Regions from separate parts of the Homo sapiens genome. Here region 2 is linked to region 1. Evidence: fine-mapped expression QTL. Tissue or cell type: whole blood. Region 1 holds a variant in brackets; the other region holds the start of a gene. All regions are shown on one strand. Distances are between the middles of the regions.

Region 1 (8,205 bases):
ATATATAATCATATACATATATATTTATATACATAGTTCTTATATATACATATATAATTTATTATATTTACATATACACATATAATTTTTATATATGTAATTATTTCTTTTTTATTTTTATTTTTTGAGAGGGAGTCTTGCTCTGTTGCCCAGGCTGGAATGCAGTGGCGCGATCTCAACTCACTGCAGCCTCCGCCTCCGGGGTTCAAGTGATTCTCCAGCCTCAGCCTCCCAAGTAGCTGGGATTATTGGCGCCATTCCAAGCTAATTTTTGTATGTTTAGTAGAGATGGGGTTTCGCCACATTGGCCAGGCTGGTCTCAAACTCCTGATGTCATGTGATCCCCCTGCTATTTTAGTAATTATTTCAATAATAAAAGTAAGTGGTACTCGATAAAGAAAATTTTTAAATGTGTACCCAAGTACAACAAATATTGATATTTTGTTTTTTTCCATATAGTTCTTTATTTTTGCAGGGAATATTTAGAAACGTTTCTATTTTGACTTTTTTTCATGTAACATTTTTACATAAGGACTTATCTATTTTATTATGTTACATACTTTTTGTGAATACTGTTGGCCCTCCGTATCGGTGGGTTCCACATCTATAAATTCAACCAATCTTGGACTGAAAATATTTGAAAAAAATATGCATCTGTACTGTACATGTACAGACTTGTTTTCTTGTCATTATTCCCTAAACCATACAGTATGACAATTATTTACATGGTACTTACATTATATTAGGTATTATAACTAATCTAGAGATGATTTAAAGTATATAGGAGGATGTGCCAAGGTTACATGCAAATATTATGTAATTTTATATTAGTAACTTGAGTATCTAAGAATTCTGGTATCTGAGGGAGGTCCTGGAACCAATCTTCCATGAATACTGAGGGTCAACTGCATTTCTCAGGTTACTTATTTATTTTCCTATATTAAACATTCGGATTGTTATTTGATCCTCTATTATAGTAGTTCCTTTACTATTTTTTTTTTTGGCACAAAGTCTACTCTGTATCTAGGAGTCTTTCCTTCAGATACAAGACATGGAATTGTTGGATGTAAGTATACAAGCACAAGGAAAAAGAAAGCATCCAAGTTATTTCCTAGAGTTTTTTACATTTATTCCTGCCTTTCACAAATAATAGCTTTATATGTCCTTTGACATTTTCCTAAAGGTATTTTTTAATAGAAATAATGTTAAATTACTATAAAAACTCCAAATTTTACTTCTTTTTTACAGTTCTGCTAAGTAAATTTGCTTAAAAAAGAATATATGTTAGGTGATTCCAATCCTCAGGAAAGCATTTGGGTAGAGCCTCACCTCTGGTGGCCCATGAAAGGAGTAAGAGTAGAGAATGGGCTGGATCATGATGAGGGACTGGGTCAGGTCCTGCCGGGCAAAATGATGTCTGTAATATGACGACTCATCAGGACTGTTGTTAAACACTTGAAGAAATGGAGATCTTCTCAGATGGAACATAAACTGCATTCACAAAGAACGGAAAGAGAAATGCATATAATTGTAACCTTCTTAGACACCCACAGAGTAGATCTACCTCAGGGCTCTGAAATAGGAGAACCCAGAAAAGGGCTCTCTGGTTTCACAGAACAGAAAGCATAAGGGGGCACCAGGGGCTAGGGAAAGAGGAAAACTGAGAGTTGTTGCTTAATGAGCACAGAGTTTCAGCTCTGCAAAGTGAAAAATTCTAGACATCAGTTGCTCAATAATGGGAATACACGTAACACTACTCAACGGTATGCTTAAAAATGGTTAAGATGGTAAATTTTGTTATGTGTGTTTTACCACATTAAAAATTAATTTTTTTTTTTAAAGGGCCTTTGGCCAGGCGTGGTGGCTCACGCCTGTAATCCCAGCACTTTGGGAGGCCGAGGCGGGCGGATCACCTGAGGTCGGGAGTTCAAGACCAGCCTGACCAACATGGAGAAACCCCGTCTCTACTAAAAATCCAAAATTACCCGGGTGTGGTGGTGGGCGCCTGTAATCCCAGCTACTCAGGAGGCTGAGGCAGGAAAATCACTTGAACCCAGTAGGGGGAGGTTGCGGTGAGCTGAGATCAGGCCATTGCACTCCAGCCTGGGCAACAAGAGCAAAACTCCGTCTCAAAAAAATTAAAAATTAAAAATTTTTAAAAAAATACAAAATTTTTTTAAGAAAAGGGCCTCTGGGTATGTCAAAGCTTCCACAGTTAAGAGGAAAGCCAAAGAAATGTTTATTTCCAGAGTCACTGTGCCAGGCAGTGGAGACAGAATATCTGCTCTCAGAAGTCAGGCCCAGTGAGAAAGGCACACTCGGGCTACGAGTTATGAGCCAGAGTACAGGATAGCAGTGGGGAGTGGGGGTGGAGGGCCAGGAGGAGACTTCCTAGAGCTCCGGGGACTGACAGTGCACCCTGAGAGACGTGGCTGAGGAGGCCACAGGGCCAGGGGGAAGGGGATTCCAGGCACAGGAACAGCAGATGACAGCTCAGGACACAAGCTGGGATGGTGAAGTGTTGGTGCAGGGGAGAAAGGGACAAGGGATGACACTGCAACCATAGGTTCTCGCCCTCGAGGATGAGAAGAAGGGGTGGGGGCAGACTTTCAGCTCACATTAAAGAGTTGCCAGAACACGAAAATGAGCTGCCTTGTGAAGTGTAAAGCTTCCTGAGACTCCAAATATTCAATCATAGGTTCCTAAATAATAATCAAGGCTGACATCTAATACATCCTACATGCAAGTCACAAAGCACTTGACAAGAACTATTTAATCCTTCCAATAAGCCCATGAGGTAAGTTCTCTTACCATCCCTAGTTTACAGGTGAGGAAACTGAGGCACAGAGGGGCGAGCAACTTGTCCAAGGTCACCCCACTACTGAGTGTCACAGCTGGACTCTACACCTGGCCGCCTGGCTCTAGAGACTGGGCTGTTGGCCTCTTTCCTAGAATGCCTTGACAGAAGGAATCTGAGAAAGCATTTCATCTGGTTTTCAAGCTGTGCTCTTAGAGTCTTCATCAAGTCCTCAGGGGCCCAGGGATGAGGGCTCTGGTGGGACCCAGTGTGGGGGTGGTACACAGGCACAACCAGAGAAGCACCAACTCTGTCTGCTTTATGTGCTGGCTTTTAAGGGCAGCTCCTCTCAAAGAAAGGATTCCATGGCTTTAAAAAAAAAAAAAAAAAAAAAAAAAACTGCAAACCACTTCACCAGACCAACTCCCCACTGCTAGAGGTGGGAAACCAAACTCTACGGGGCTTTGGAACCTCCTCTAAGGTCAGCCCCTGCGGAGCCAGCACTGGAACCTCAACCTGACTCTGGCCGGTCCAGGGCTCTTCTCACAACACCACACAGCTTTAACCTCTGGCACATGGACACCTCAGAGTCCCAGGCACCTGCTATGGAGCTAGGTCACATTTAGTGCTGAACAGGTTACTGGCATTGTGCTAAATATTTAATACTCAGTTGGCCTCAGCTCCTGTAATCCTTATAGACACCCATGAATTGTGCTCTATTTCCTAAGTTACAATGGAGACGGAAATTCATCTACTTCTCCTGCTCCTCTCTCTTGTCCAATGGCTTCCAAAGGCTTGGTTCATGCAGAGTGCAGTTACTTTCAGGAGCTGCTTATTGCTCACTCCTGGTTATGATGCACATAATAACCACAGACATATTATTAAATATTTGTTGTACTAACTGTGGTTTTGTTTTGTTATCTTCATCTCCATGTGTGCTCATTTTCTTGGTTTGTTGCTGAGGTAGCTGTTTCCCCAGAACTTCTACACATGAGAGATATTTTTTACGGCCTTATATCAATGATCCTATTTTGCCTGTTCATGAAAATGTATGCATGAGTTTTCTCCCCTCTGCATGTCATCTCTATCTTCTGTAGGGCGTAGGGTGCTGTCTTGCCTAGACACATATTCGACTTGGGTTGAACAATCTCTGTCACCTACAGACTGAGTCTCAACACATTAAAAAGTCTTCACTTTACCCTAAGAATAAAGTTAATTTCTATCAAAATTTATTGCTCTGTAGTTATTTTAGAAACATACATTACTTACCTGAGGATATAGAGAAAAGGAATCTGATAACCTAAAAGAAGTGGGGTCTTCTTTGTTATACTGTCCAAACTTTTGACACTATGGAAAGAAAATACCAAAAAACAAACAAACACACACAAAAAGAGAGAGAAAAATCTAAGTTAGCATTACCTGGAAATATTCCTGGACTAAGCTACATCCAGTCTGAACTCTGCCACTTACTATAAGTCCTAGACTAGCACTTCTCAAGCATCAGTGAGCAGGCAAATGACCAGGGGATCTTGTTAAAATGCAGACTCTAGGGAGGAGCTGAAGATTCTGCATCTCTAATCAGCTCTCAGGCAATGCTGGCCTGAGGACTGCCCTAACCAGAGAAGCTAGGTGAGCTCTTCCAGGCACCTGTTCCATATGAAAACCCTCTAACACCATGAAAACTAACAATTATAGTTACGCTTTGATGTTCTCTCACACTAAAACTCAAATTTATTTCTCCCAATGGCAGACTTCTGAACCACAATGTTTTCTCTTCCCGCCTTTATTTCTGCTCACACATTTCTGGTCACTAAAGAATTGGACTGTTCATCATTTAAAGAAACCCCATTTCTAACAATTACTTTCTTCCCACAAAATCTGGTGTCCTTCC[G/A]CAGTTCTCGTCTTCTTGAACTTCCTAGCAGCATGAGCCAGGTGACTGCCCAAATGTCTCGAAACTTTCTCCTTCAGCTGCTAATACATCACTTTCCTATTTCTCATAATCTCTCCAACCAACCCTTTTCTGCCTTCTTCAATGGTTTTGTCTTCCTCCTCCCCCTAACTGTGGACTCCTTGGGGGTTAGTTCTTGGCCCCCTCCTCCCATCCTCACTGCTTTGGGTACAAATGAACACTAGAGCCAGATGGGTGTCATCCAAATCCACCCTCCAGTGTCCAGTGCTGACCTATAGCCTGAGCCCCAGTCAGGACATCCACCCAAATATGGGAGTTTTCGTGAGACACACTTTTGCAAGTTCACATTCAATTATCAAAAATTATCAAAAATAAACTATTACATTAAAAAAAGAGAAAAAACTTTCTCCCACCCTAAAGTTGCTCTCCTTTCCCATCTTCTACCTCAACACCACTCATGCAGTTACCCATGTGTGAAATGTCATTCAGTGCTGACTTTTTGGTTTTTGACTTTACACAGAATCATTTCATCAAGTTTTATCAATTCTTTCAGTTTACATCCTGATTTCAAACCTTCTGCTTCCTCCATCTCTCCTGCCACTATGCTGGTCTCAGTGCCATTGAGCCTGAAAAATCCTCCATTCACAACAATAGCCTTTTCTCTCTGCAATGTGCCTCACATGGTGATATTAAATGTAAACACAAGCATCATGCTGACATCAAACCCCCGCTTAACAATCACAGCCACGTCTCCCTTGCTCCCTAAAGTTAAGGAGCTCCCCAATCAAGGTGTACCTTCCCTGACTCTGTTCCCCACTGCACAACCTAGCCTCCTGTGACACTGGTTTCTCCAAAGTCCTCAGCATAAGCTAAAAGACCCAGCTAGCTCCTGCAGGCTCATTCCTGCTAGCCCTCCACTCAGCAAGCCTTGCCTTCCCTTCTCCAATTAATTCTGTAATAAAAACCTGACTCAAGGCTCATTTCCACAGGAAGTCTTTGTTAGCCACCTGGGCCCTCTGCTTATCTATCCTCCCTCTGAAATCCTAAAGAAGCAATTTTCAAATTATGTTTGAAATGTTGACACTTCCTGAAAAATGGTTCCATGAGATGGCAAGGGCAAATAGAGGGCTGAACAAAATGAAACAGGTTTCCCTACTGGGCCTTTCCATGGTGGCTTTGATCACAAACACATGCTGTGACTCTCCAGGAAGGTAAGATTATCATGTGCCAATTATTGATTTATTGCCTTGTGCTGGCTCCAAACTCACCCCCTTTGCCTGCTGTGAAATGGACATGGGCCCTTTCACTACCTCTCCTTTGCCAGCTGGCACGATATCAAGCGTTGTCAGTAGAGAGTGCTGGAGGTGAGCGTCAGCTTTGGGCGCCCGAGTGCTCATTCAGCAGCTTCCCGGGTGCCAGGTCCTGCTGCACCGTGGCTCCCCAGTGCTGAGCTCCTGGAGAACATGGCAGCCAGCAGCTAAGCAGCATCCCTGCATGTCTCCAGTGAGACATTTTCCTATACACAGCTTTCCCTGGCACCCTGGAGGGTGGATTTTCTTCAAATTCTAGAAAGTGAATTTCTAGTAAGTTCCCCTGGCACAGCACCACGGTAACTTCTCTGCAAAAGACTCACCAAGCCATGGCCATGCCCTCCCAACTAGGTCTGGATCAGCCCTGGGGAGAAGGGCACTTCCTTTGGTGCTCTATCTCAGCCCCACAAGTAGTGGCTGCCCACTTCTCTATACTTCCTTCTAGCCAGTCCCTCACTGTTCTACTCTCTTGTTGTATTCTTTATAAAAGACTTTCCCCATTTAAATTACAGTGTGACTTCTCTCATCTCATTAAATCCAGACTGATAAAAGGCATCTCCCTAAACTTACCAGGCTGGATCCCTATTTCCAAAACCACTTTCCAGATTTAGAAGAAAAATACAAGACCAGAGCATTCACAAAATGACTCATCTAAGTCAACTCAACCCACACAGATTTGTATCACTCTCCAAATGCTCCATGCGTGTTGTTTCTTCCCAACTATAATGTAAATCTCTGAGGGGAAAATGCACATTTAACACGTCTTTAACAGAATGTCCAGCGTGCAGCATAAGGTAGGCAACTGATAAATTCTTGCTGATTCACTATATAATAATAATTAAGTGACAATTTTCTTCTCGAAAGTAAAGCAGAAACCAAGACTGAACCTAATGCCACTGTCCCCAATTTACCAGTCGGATGAGTTGTCGGTCCAGCCACCGGAGCACATCGGGCCCCTCCTCTGACTCCGCTCGGAACACCCCAAGCCGTGCCATCAACACTGCCGCAGCCTCCTGGTCAAATGCTGCTTCTATGTGCCTGAGCTGACTCTGTACATCTGCCCAACTGACAATTCCAGAGTTAGTGCCATGCTTATGTTTAGGAGAGATCAGAAAGCCAGACATCCATTCAGAAAAAGAAACACAGGCTAGGTGCAGTGGCTCATTCCTGAAATCCCAACACTTTGGGAGGGCAAGGTGGCAGGACTGCTTGAGCCTAGAAGTTCAAGACCAGCCTGGGCAACAATGTGAGATCACCATCTCTCTGCATAAAAGTAAAAAGATTAGCTAGTTTTGGTGGCAGGTGCCTGTGGTCCCAGCTACCTGGGAGGCTGAAGTGGGAGGATCACTTGAGCATGGGAGGTTGAGGCTGTGGTGAGCTGTGATTGTGCCACTGTACTCCAGCTTGGGCAACAGAGCGAGACTGTCTCCAGATGATAATAATAATAATTAATACTTTTAATGAACTATATTTCCTACAGAAAGATGATTCCTCTAGGCAAGTGTTCATAGGCCCAACTGGGTTAGCCAAAAATGCCTCCTCCTCTGATCAAATAAGCTAATGAGGTCTGGTGAGAACCATTCAATGGAATCAAAAAGACAAACTAACAAATGTTAAAGTATCTCTTCAAGGGAAAAATGTCAGTCAGTTCCTCAACAGAAAGGAAACTGGGGCTGCTTACTTTCGGGCGATGGTGGTCACGCGGATGCGTCTCTGGGTGCTGGAGTGCTGATAATGCGTGACAAACTGGATGGCTCCTCTGCCTCCTTGGGGGATCGGGGTGTTGTGCTGTAGGATGAGAGGCCATAACCTTGTCTGTTATAGGCGCAACTCAAACACGGTCACAGAGCCCACTGTACTCTTCTAAAATGACTGACACAGCAATGACAGGAAGGTTCTTGACACATTTTGAAGGGCACACTTAGGATTTGCACATTTCACTGCATATAACCTTATCTCCAAAAAAGTTGAAGAACTACGTTCAATACTGAACTTAAGTTAATGATACACCTACTGAAGTGTTTAGGCATGAAATACATGGATGACTGAGGCTTGTTTTGAAATGCAGCAAAACGAAGATGGATTGATGAATCACAAACTGGATGAGTTATTGCTGATGAATTATCCAGTTTGTGACGGATTGTTAATCATTAAACAAACACAGACATGCCTCATTTATTTGCAGATTT
Region 2 (8,205 bases), 39 kb after region 1:
GTTTAGGAGTCTCATCATCTACTACTTATCACAAATTTGATGACCTGCCCAAATTTAATGACTTTTATGAGCATCACATAAAATTCATAATATATTGTATTTATCATTTTTACCAGTTTCAAAAGAATCCATACCAAAGTGGGTTGAGAACAGCTTTACAAGTTGGCCTGCTGCAAAGCACAGGTTCATATTGTACAGGAGGTAGGTCTGGACGTTCTTTCAAAGGAGTAAGGAGACAAGCCAGGGGTACAACCATTCTTGTAGCCTCCAGCCGGCTGGAAGGCCACACGTTCCAACTAAAACGCACACCATCCCGTTCTTCATTCTGCTGGATGAACTCCAGGTATGTCGCCATAGTCTAAAAGGGAACTGAAGATAAAACTTTAATTACCTTAATGGTATGTGAAATTCTGAACTAAATGTCAAAAAAAGAAGATGGGTCATGTAACACAGTGTTTCTCTTTTTTTCCCATCTCAGCTCACTGCAGCCTCCACCTCCCGGGTTCAAGCGATTCTCCTGCCACAGCCTCCCAAGTAGCTGGGATTACAAGCCTGTGCCACCAAGCCCGGCTAATTTTTTGTATTTTTAGTAGAGGCAGGGTTTCACCATGTTGGCCAGGCTGGTCTCAAACTCCTGACCTCAGGTGATCCACCCGCCTTGGCCTTCCAAAGTGCTGGGATTACAGGCGTGACCCACTGTACCCGGCCCAACTAACACAGTGTTTCTTAAATACTTGGGAAGAACCTGTTGCTGTAGAATGACAGTATTTCTTTTCCATCTGATACCCAAAAGTCAGTTAACCGCACAGTTATCATTGATCACTGCTCCTTTCTCACCTCTCCTTTCAAGCACTTAAAAATAAATCAAAGGAGTGGGAGGTTTACAATCACCTGATCATCTCCAAACTACATGTAGTTAAACACTACTACTTCAAACCTCCTCACAGATCACACGTCCTATCAGTCAAGCCAATTTCAGCCCCTTGCTCAAGGGTAAGTCTTGAACCCTGTTTCGGCATCCAACTATCTTCCTCTCTAATCTCCTTCCTTTCTTCCTCTATTAAATTTTACATTCCAAGTGATTTTTTTTTCAGTAGCGGGGGGGTGCTCATTCCCTTCCGCACTTTGTTAACTTTGGAGAAAAGAGCTGGATACTGATCTTCAAGTTTGGTTCATAATGGGAACCAGTTTTGAGCTAAATTATTTCTACTTGGTATTACCAAAATTACTATTATGCTGAGTCTCACCAGAACCTCTTTCCTCACCACGGTTGCTTATGTTCATGCCTTGACAGGCTGTGGTCAAGGCCAGGTGTGGTGGCTCACACCTATACTCGCAGCACTTTGGGAGGCTGAGATGGGCGGATCACGAGGTCAGGAGTTCAAGACCAGCCTGGCCAACACAGTGAAACTCCGTCTCTACTAAAAATACAAAAATTAGCCAGGTGTGGTGGCACGTGCCCATAGTCCCAGCTACTCAGGAGGTTGAGGCAGGAGAATCGTCTGAACTCGGGAGGCAGAGATTGCAGTGAGGCGAGACAATGCCATTGCACAGCCTGGGCGACAGAGCCAGACTCTGTTTCAAAAAAAAAATGAAGACTGTGGTCAGTAAAACTGTCCTACAGGCTAAACTCTCAAACCCAGATGATCCCAACTTCATTGAGTATTTATACATCCTGTTCATATCCTAAAATCTAGGGTAACACACAACTCAGCTATTGGGGTTCAAGGGAACAAGCCCCTCAAGAAAAGTAGTAAAAAGGCAAATTAAAGAGTCTATCAAATTAAAGTGGCCTCTCGCGCCCACTTCCTGAATATGGATAACAACTGTCTGTTATTTTGGGAAGTACCATACTGTAAATAATTTTGATTAAGGCAATAATATTGCATGGCTAGAAAAGCAAATGAATTACTCTACTACATAAAGCCCAGAACACAAGAATTCCAATGTTTGCTCCAACTGAAACTCTAAGAAATCTGTTTATTTCTGGCAACGGCAAGAACCTGAAGCACTGTGTGCACAGGAAGCACTCTGGAGCTTCATGGGAAGCAAAGGGATAACTAAAGTCGGAATGAAAGCAAGTTCTATCACAACTCTCAGCAAGTATGTCAGCAGATTTCATTAAATAACCGTCTCTCTCTCAAAACGTTCTTTATTAAAAGGCACTGGCGGCCGGGCGCGGTGGCTCACGCCTGTAATCCCAGCACTTTGGGCGACCGAGGCCGGTGGATGACCTGAGGTCAGGAATTCAAGACCAGCCTGGCCAACATGGCAAAACCCCGTCTCTACTAAAAATACAAAAATTAGCTGGGCGTGGTGGCAGGTGCCTGTAATCCCAGCTACTCGGGAGGCTGCGGCAGGGAGGACTGCTTGACCTTGGGAGGCATTGGTTGCAGTGAGCCGAGATCACGCCACTGCACTCCAGCCTGGGCGACAGAGCGAGACTCCATCTCAAAAAAAAAAAAAAAAAAAAAGAAGCTACTGCCTCCATCTAATGGTTTCCAAGCATGTACAGCCTAAGACCTGCTCCCTCCTTTTCCTACTGCCTGTTTCCCTCACCCTTCTAGGGTCTGGATTCTTAGCAGTGGACACATAATCCAAGGGGACTATAGAAGGTCCACTAATCATCTGAAGTTATGCGCATGAGGGAATATGCCGTTTTTCTAGGGAGATGGGTCCATAGCTTTTACCAAAGTATCGGGGAAGGTATCTGAAGAGGTAAATAACTGAAAGTATGAATTAGTGAATGAATGAAAGGCCTGGAAAGATAACAGGAGAATATGCCAAAAAATCTGAACCACCCTTATCGCGCCAACTCGTAACTTCTCAGGACACAGTGACCATGTGTATGTAAGAATAAGTGAGGTTTAATCCTTGAAGGGAGTCCAAGGACCTGGGTTCCAGTTCCAGCTGTCATGAAGCAAAAGTCGTTTCACTTGTCTGAGTCTTGAGTTTCTCAACTATAAAACGGGACTTGGGTCCTTCCAGGTGTGCGCACTCCGCAATTCTGGGGAAACTGGAGCCAGAAATCGGTCCCGGCCTGGTGCGGGACGACATCCGCAGGGGACTCCCGGATCATCCATTCCCCCGCTACCCTAAACTGTCAAGAAAAGGCCTCCTCCCAGAAGCCGCTCACCTCGCCCCCGGCAGAAACTCATACCCGTGCCCTCGGCCCTCCGTCACCTATGCGCCCCGCTCACCTGGCCGGAGCCGCTCACCTAGCTAGAGCCGTCCTCACCCACAGCTGCAACAAGCAGGCTCCGGCTCCCACCGCCAAGTCCAGCTCAGCTCTCAACCGATTGGCCAGCGCCCCAGCGCGTCATGCCACGGCGCTGTCCACTGGCCAATCAAAGAGCGCTTCTCCGACGGACTGGAGGAAGCGAGAGACTCAGAGAAGCTCTGCCACCATCTTGGAACAGGGCAAGACAGGTGTATGTCGCACTTCAAAACGAGAGTTCCTCGGAACACGTTTCCCCACCCCTAAACGTTTCTGTTTCAGAAAACCCCGGCGCCTGCCGCACCGTTGCCTAAGCGCAGCCAGCGCTCCTCAGAGGTTCGCCCTGATACAATATGACATCCGCTCGTCTCAGTGGGAAGTCCCGCTGATCGCCTTAGCTACCGGAAAGCGAGAACGATGACGTATGCTCGCGGAACAGGGAGCTGCACTGGTTGGAAGAAACTAAGGCTGCCGGAAGAAGGCATTAGCATGCGGAAGGGGCGGGGCGGGTGGTGAGCGCGGCGGCGCTTACGCACTTGCTGGTTTGGGAGTCGGTCTCTGTGGTTAAGTTTGAAGTACAGAGGTGTGGTGGTGCTTCACGTTACAAGCTCTCCTACCGTCGCTTGCTGTAATGTCTTGGCGCTCTCAGCGGAGGCTGGCACTAGCGCACAGTCCCTGTCATCCTTCTACATGGAGATAAATAATTGAGAACTGTAATATTCAACCATTTTAGGAGAGTAAGCTTAGAAATACATGGAACATAACTTTCTTTTAAAAAATAATTCCAACGTTTAGATTTAGGGGGTACACTGCGTATTTGTTACCTGGCTATGAGGTTTCGAATTCGAATGAGCTGGTCACCCAGATACTGAGCATAGTACCCAAGTTTTTCAGCCCCTCCCTGCCTCCCTCCCCACTCTAGTAGTCCCCAGCGTCTATTAATGTCACCTTTGTGTCCATGTGTGCCCAATGCTTAGCTCCCACTTTCAAGTGAGAACATGTATTTGGTTTTCTGCTTCTGCGTTAATTCTTTTAGGATCATGGCCTCCAGATGCATCCATGTTGCTGCAAAAGGCGCGATAGAACACAACTGTATAAAGCCACCACAACCATTTTTACACACGCTGACAAGTGGCAAACATGAACACATCATTACTGTGACTCAGAGTTGTAGTCTCTGTAGCATATAAAAATAAGCAAAACGATGTAAACATAAAATTATGCAAGAACATATCTAGGCATCCAAGAAGTATCCATTAATTAGCTCAATTTAATACTAAGTTTTAAGTTATCTACAGATCATAGAAATTATTAATAGTTTAAGGCACAAAGAAACAATTACTGTTAAATGTGAGAATGATTCAGTTTTGTTGAACAAATTCACATTTTTCAGGATCTTAAACAATGTAATGTTAATATTAGCTTATCAATAGTAAACTTTTATAAATTTAGGAAGTTCAGATTAATTATTCTCGGTAAGGAAACAAACTCAAAATGTACACATGTATAATACTTAACACTGAGAAAAGACATAGCTGGGATTTTTTTTAACCAAAACTTAATATTATTCGCCAAAGATTTGCCTTGATTATTTGAACCTGGATTCTTTCTGTACTAGCAATTTCTGTAAGAAAGATTGTTATAGGACCATCAGGTTCGATTGTCCATTGTGCGGTAACAGAAAGAATAGGAGTTGCAGCAGATAAAGAGTTCCATAATCAAGTGGCAGCCAAATGAGGAGACAAGAGCAATCCTCAAATCCACCTCCCCAAGAGATTAGAGATGGCATTTTTAAGAAGTCTGGAGGGGCAATGGGCTAAAGTGTGGGGATTTCTGATTGGTCAGGAAGTGAGAGGTGAAGTCATGGGACAGGGAGATGAAGAAACTTCATTCCAGTGTTGTTTCTTGGTGGAGGTCTTTATTTATTTATTTAAAAAAATTTTTTTTTTGTAAAGCAGGGTCTCACTTTGTTGCCCAGGCTAGTCTCAAACTCCGGGCTTCAGGCGATCCTCTCACCTTGGCCTCCCAAAGTGCTAAGATTACAGGCGTGAGCCACTGTGCCCTTCCTGGTGGGGATCCCTAGACAGTTTGGCATCAGCTGTTTTGTGGGAATTCAGGATCTGAAAAATACCTTAAGCAATTCCTGGGTACAAAGAGCTAGTGTCAGAGATTCTGTGGATAGGAGCAATCAGGGAGTAGGTGATCAGTGTGCTGCAAGGCTTTTGGTTAGTTAGCAGCTGCAGGGAAGTGAATTGAAGGGCACCAATGCACCCTGGTCAGTGCCTAACTAACCTGCCTAAAGGCTGGCTTGTAATCTTGTTAACCCTGTCAGGATGGTTTCAGCATTTTTAAGAAATTTTGCATGCATAAGTTTAATTTACTTATTTTCTGGAATTTTAGAAATAATTGATTTACATGTGTTTGTTTCCATAAGTGAATTATAACAGAGCTCCTTTAAGACATGAAATAATATAACTTATTAAAACTTTACAAAGGTAGTAAGATTTTTTTACTCCCACAACAAGAGGGGAAGGCCTTTGTTGATTACAGCCGGGAAGACACATAGACACATAGCATATAGCTTTGGTTCTGCAACTTTGGCCACAGGTCGAAAGTAAATTCAGAAACATAAAAATTCAGTGGACTAGATAACAAAAAGCTGTTCTCCTTCCCAATGGGCATGGAAGTCTTAACTGATTTGAACTCATAAGTAGACAAAAAGGCAAACAAACAAAAAGACTAACAAACCAGATTTTTCATCATCTCTTATCCAAAAGAGAATAGATCTCTAAAAACTATTAATTCACTTAAAGAGATCACCAAATGTTCAGAATGTAAAACCTAGTTCCTAATTTTTTTTTTTTTTTCTGAATGAGGCAATGTATTAACCCAGCATGGTTTGTTCCAATGCTTCTTGTTGGCAGCTGCCACCTGTCCGGCAATTCTGCCCAGATCTCTCTGTCCCTGAGGTGTCAGTTTGCGGCCCCCATCTTGGTCCTTTTCCACCATTTTCAGCCCCTCCAGGGCTTGGAGGACCCGGCGGAGGACACTCTTGAAGCCTCGGCCGAAGTGGCTGGGCATGACGCCGTTTCTCTGACGTCCCCATAGATCTTGGTCATGGAGCCAACCCCAGCGCCACCCTGGAGGTACAGGTGCCGCGCTGTGGAACCGGCTCGTGTGTAGAACCAGTTCTCAACGTAGGGAGGAAGCTCTTTGTGCTTGGCCAGCTTGACGGTGTCCACCCATTCGGGGACTTTCAGCTTCCCGGACTTTTTGAGAAAGGCTGCCAGAGCTCTGACGAAGTCCCGCTGGTTCACGTGGTTTACAGGAACTCCAGGCATCGTGCGGCTTCCGCGCTGCCAGCCAGGGGAAAGGGAGCAACGGGGTTTCCCGCGAGTTCCTAATTGGTGTCGCCATTCATGGGGAAAAATCCGCCAGCTGTGGGCGAATCAGAAACAAAACCCAAAATCAGTAAGGAGGAGAAAGAAACCTAGGGAGAAAGTCAGCAACGCTGTAGTACTATTGCTACTTGGTATTCACTCCCGGAGCCAGGAAAAAATGTGCTTGGGCTTAGCCCCATGGGGTGTTCTTCAGTAATGTGGTTTACCTGGTTCTGTCAGGTGAATCCATTGGGATGTTGGTGAAAGCTTCAAAACTGTTAAAGTGTTTCAAAAGGTAAAATTATGGCCTTCATGCAAATATAAAATGAACATGTGCCAAAGATCTTACTTAACTCATTCATTGATTTTAATTAATCCCTACGACCAGGAGGGATGTTCAGACTGGTTCTAAGGAGAATTTGATTTATAGTGACATATTCTCTATCACACAAAATTGATTTGCATTGCTGTGGACAGGAATAGTTTTCATTGTTGTGGGCAGGGAACATTTGCATTACTATCTTCTATAAGTTAATTTCTATCTCTACAGAGTTGTAAAATAGCATACTCAAAGGCAGAGGTACATCCCTCCTACGGCAAATGACCCAGGGGATTTTTTGTTTTTGAAACGAAGTCTCGCTCTGTCGCCAGGCTGGAGTGCAGTGGCGCGATCTCAGTTCACTGCAACCTCCACATCCCGGCTTCAAGCGATTCTCCTGCCTCAGCCTCCCGAGTAGCTGGGACTATAGGTGCACACGACCATGCCTAGCTAATTTTTGTAATTTTAGTAGAGACAGGGTTTCACCATGTTGCCCAGAATGGTCTCGATCTCTTGACCTCATGATCTGCCCGCCTCGGCCTCCCAAAGTGCTGGGATTACAGGCATGAGCCACCACTCCCGGCCCCCAGAGAGTCTTTTAAAAATGCACAGCACTCCACAGAAAGTTCACCCAGTAACCTCTTTTGACTATTTCAAAATCTTTCATAATTTTTCTGACATATTATCATCATCTGTAGCCTGAGTCTAAATTCTTTTATTTATTTTATTTTATTATTATTATTTTGAGATGGAGTCTCTCTCTGTTGCCCAAGCTGGAGTGCAGTGGCACGATCTTGGCTCACTGCAACCTCTGCCCCTGGGTTCAAGCGATTCTCCTGCCTCAGTCTCGTGAGTGGCTGGGATTACAGGCGCAGGCCACCACACCTGGCTAATTTTTGTGTTTTTAGTAGGGGTTTCGCCATGTTGGCCAGGCCGGTGTCGAACTCCTGACCTCAGGTGATCTGCCCACCTCGGCCTCCCAAAGTGCTGGGATTACAGGTGTGAGCCACCACGCTCAGCCTAAATTCTGTATTTCTGGGTCAGACTTTTCTACCTAACATCCGATTCAAATATTCAGCAACCTGCTGGGTTCTTCAAAGTGTGTTTACTGTGCACTGGTTACCAATTCAGTTCACTGCATCTTGGGCTGTACTTCTACTACCTGCCCGAGTCTGGTGAGCCAGAACACTCACATACACAAGTTACATGAAGTGGATTTATTACTCACAGAGAAGCAGCAAGGGACAGCAGAAACCTAGGATTCAACATGAGCTGGTCTCTCAAGACTC

What was found. PIP is the estimated chance that this variant, and not a neighbour inherited with it, causes the effect.
Region 2: it holds the start of SEC23B, and the variant in region 1 is fine-mapped to the expression of SEC23B in whole blood (TOPMed, PIP 0.99).

The regions. Positions count from the first base shown.
Region 1 is chr20:18,541,895-18,550,099 of GRCh38, reverse strand. SEC23B (SEC23 homolog B, COPII component) reads right to left here. Exons shown (of 20, transcript NM_006363.6): 13 at 7,698-7,804; 14 at 6,928-7,081; 15 at 4,067-4,144; 16 at 1,330-1,491. Among named protein-coding and RNA genes, the nearest start is that of SMIM26, 21 kb to the left of the region's middle. The variant G/A (reference allele first, on the strand shown) is at 4,689.
Region 2 is chr20:18,502,986-18,511,190 of GRCh38, reverse strand. It overlaps SEC23B (SEC23 homolog B, COPII component), which reads right to left and starts at 3,251. Exons shown (of 20, transcript NM_006363.6): 1 at 3,219-3,251; 2 at 135-369. The coding sequence starts at 355. It also overlaps the pseudogene RPS19P1. RefSeq lists enhancers at 2,981-3,030, 3,381-3,710.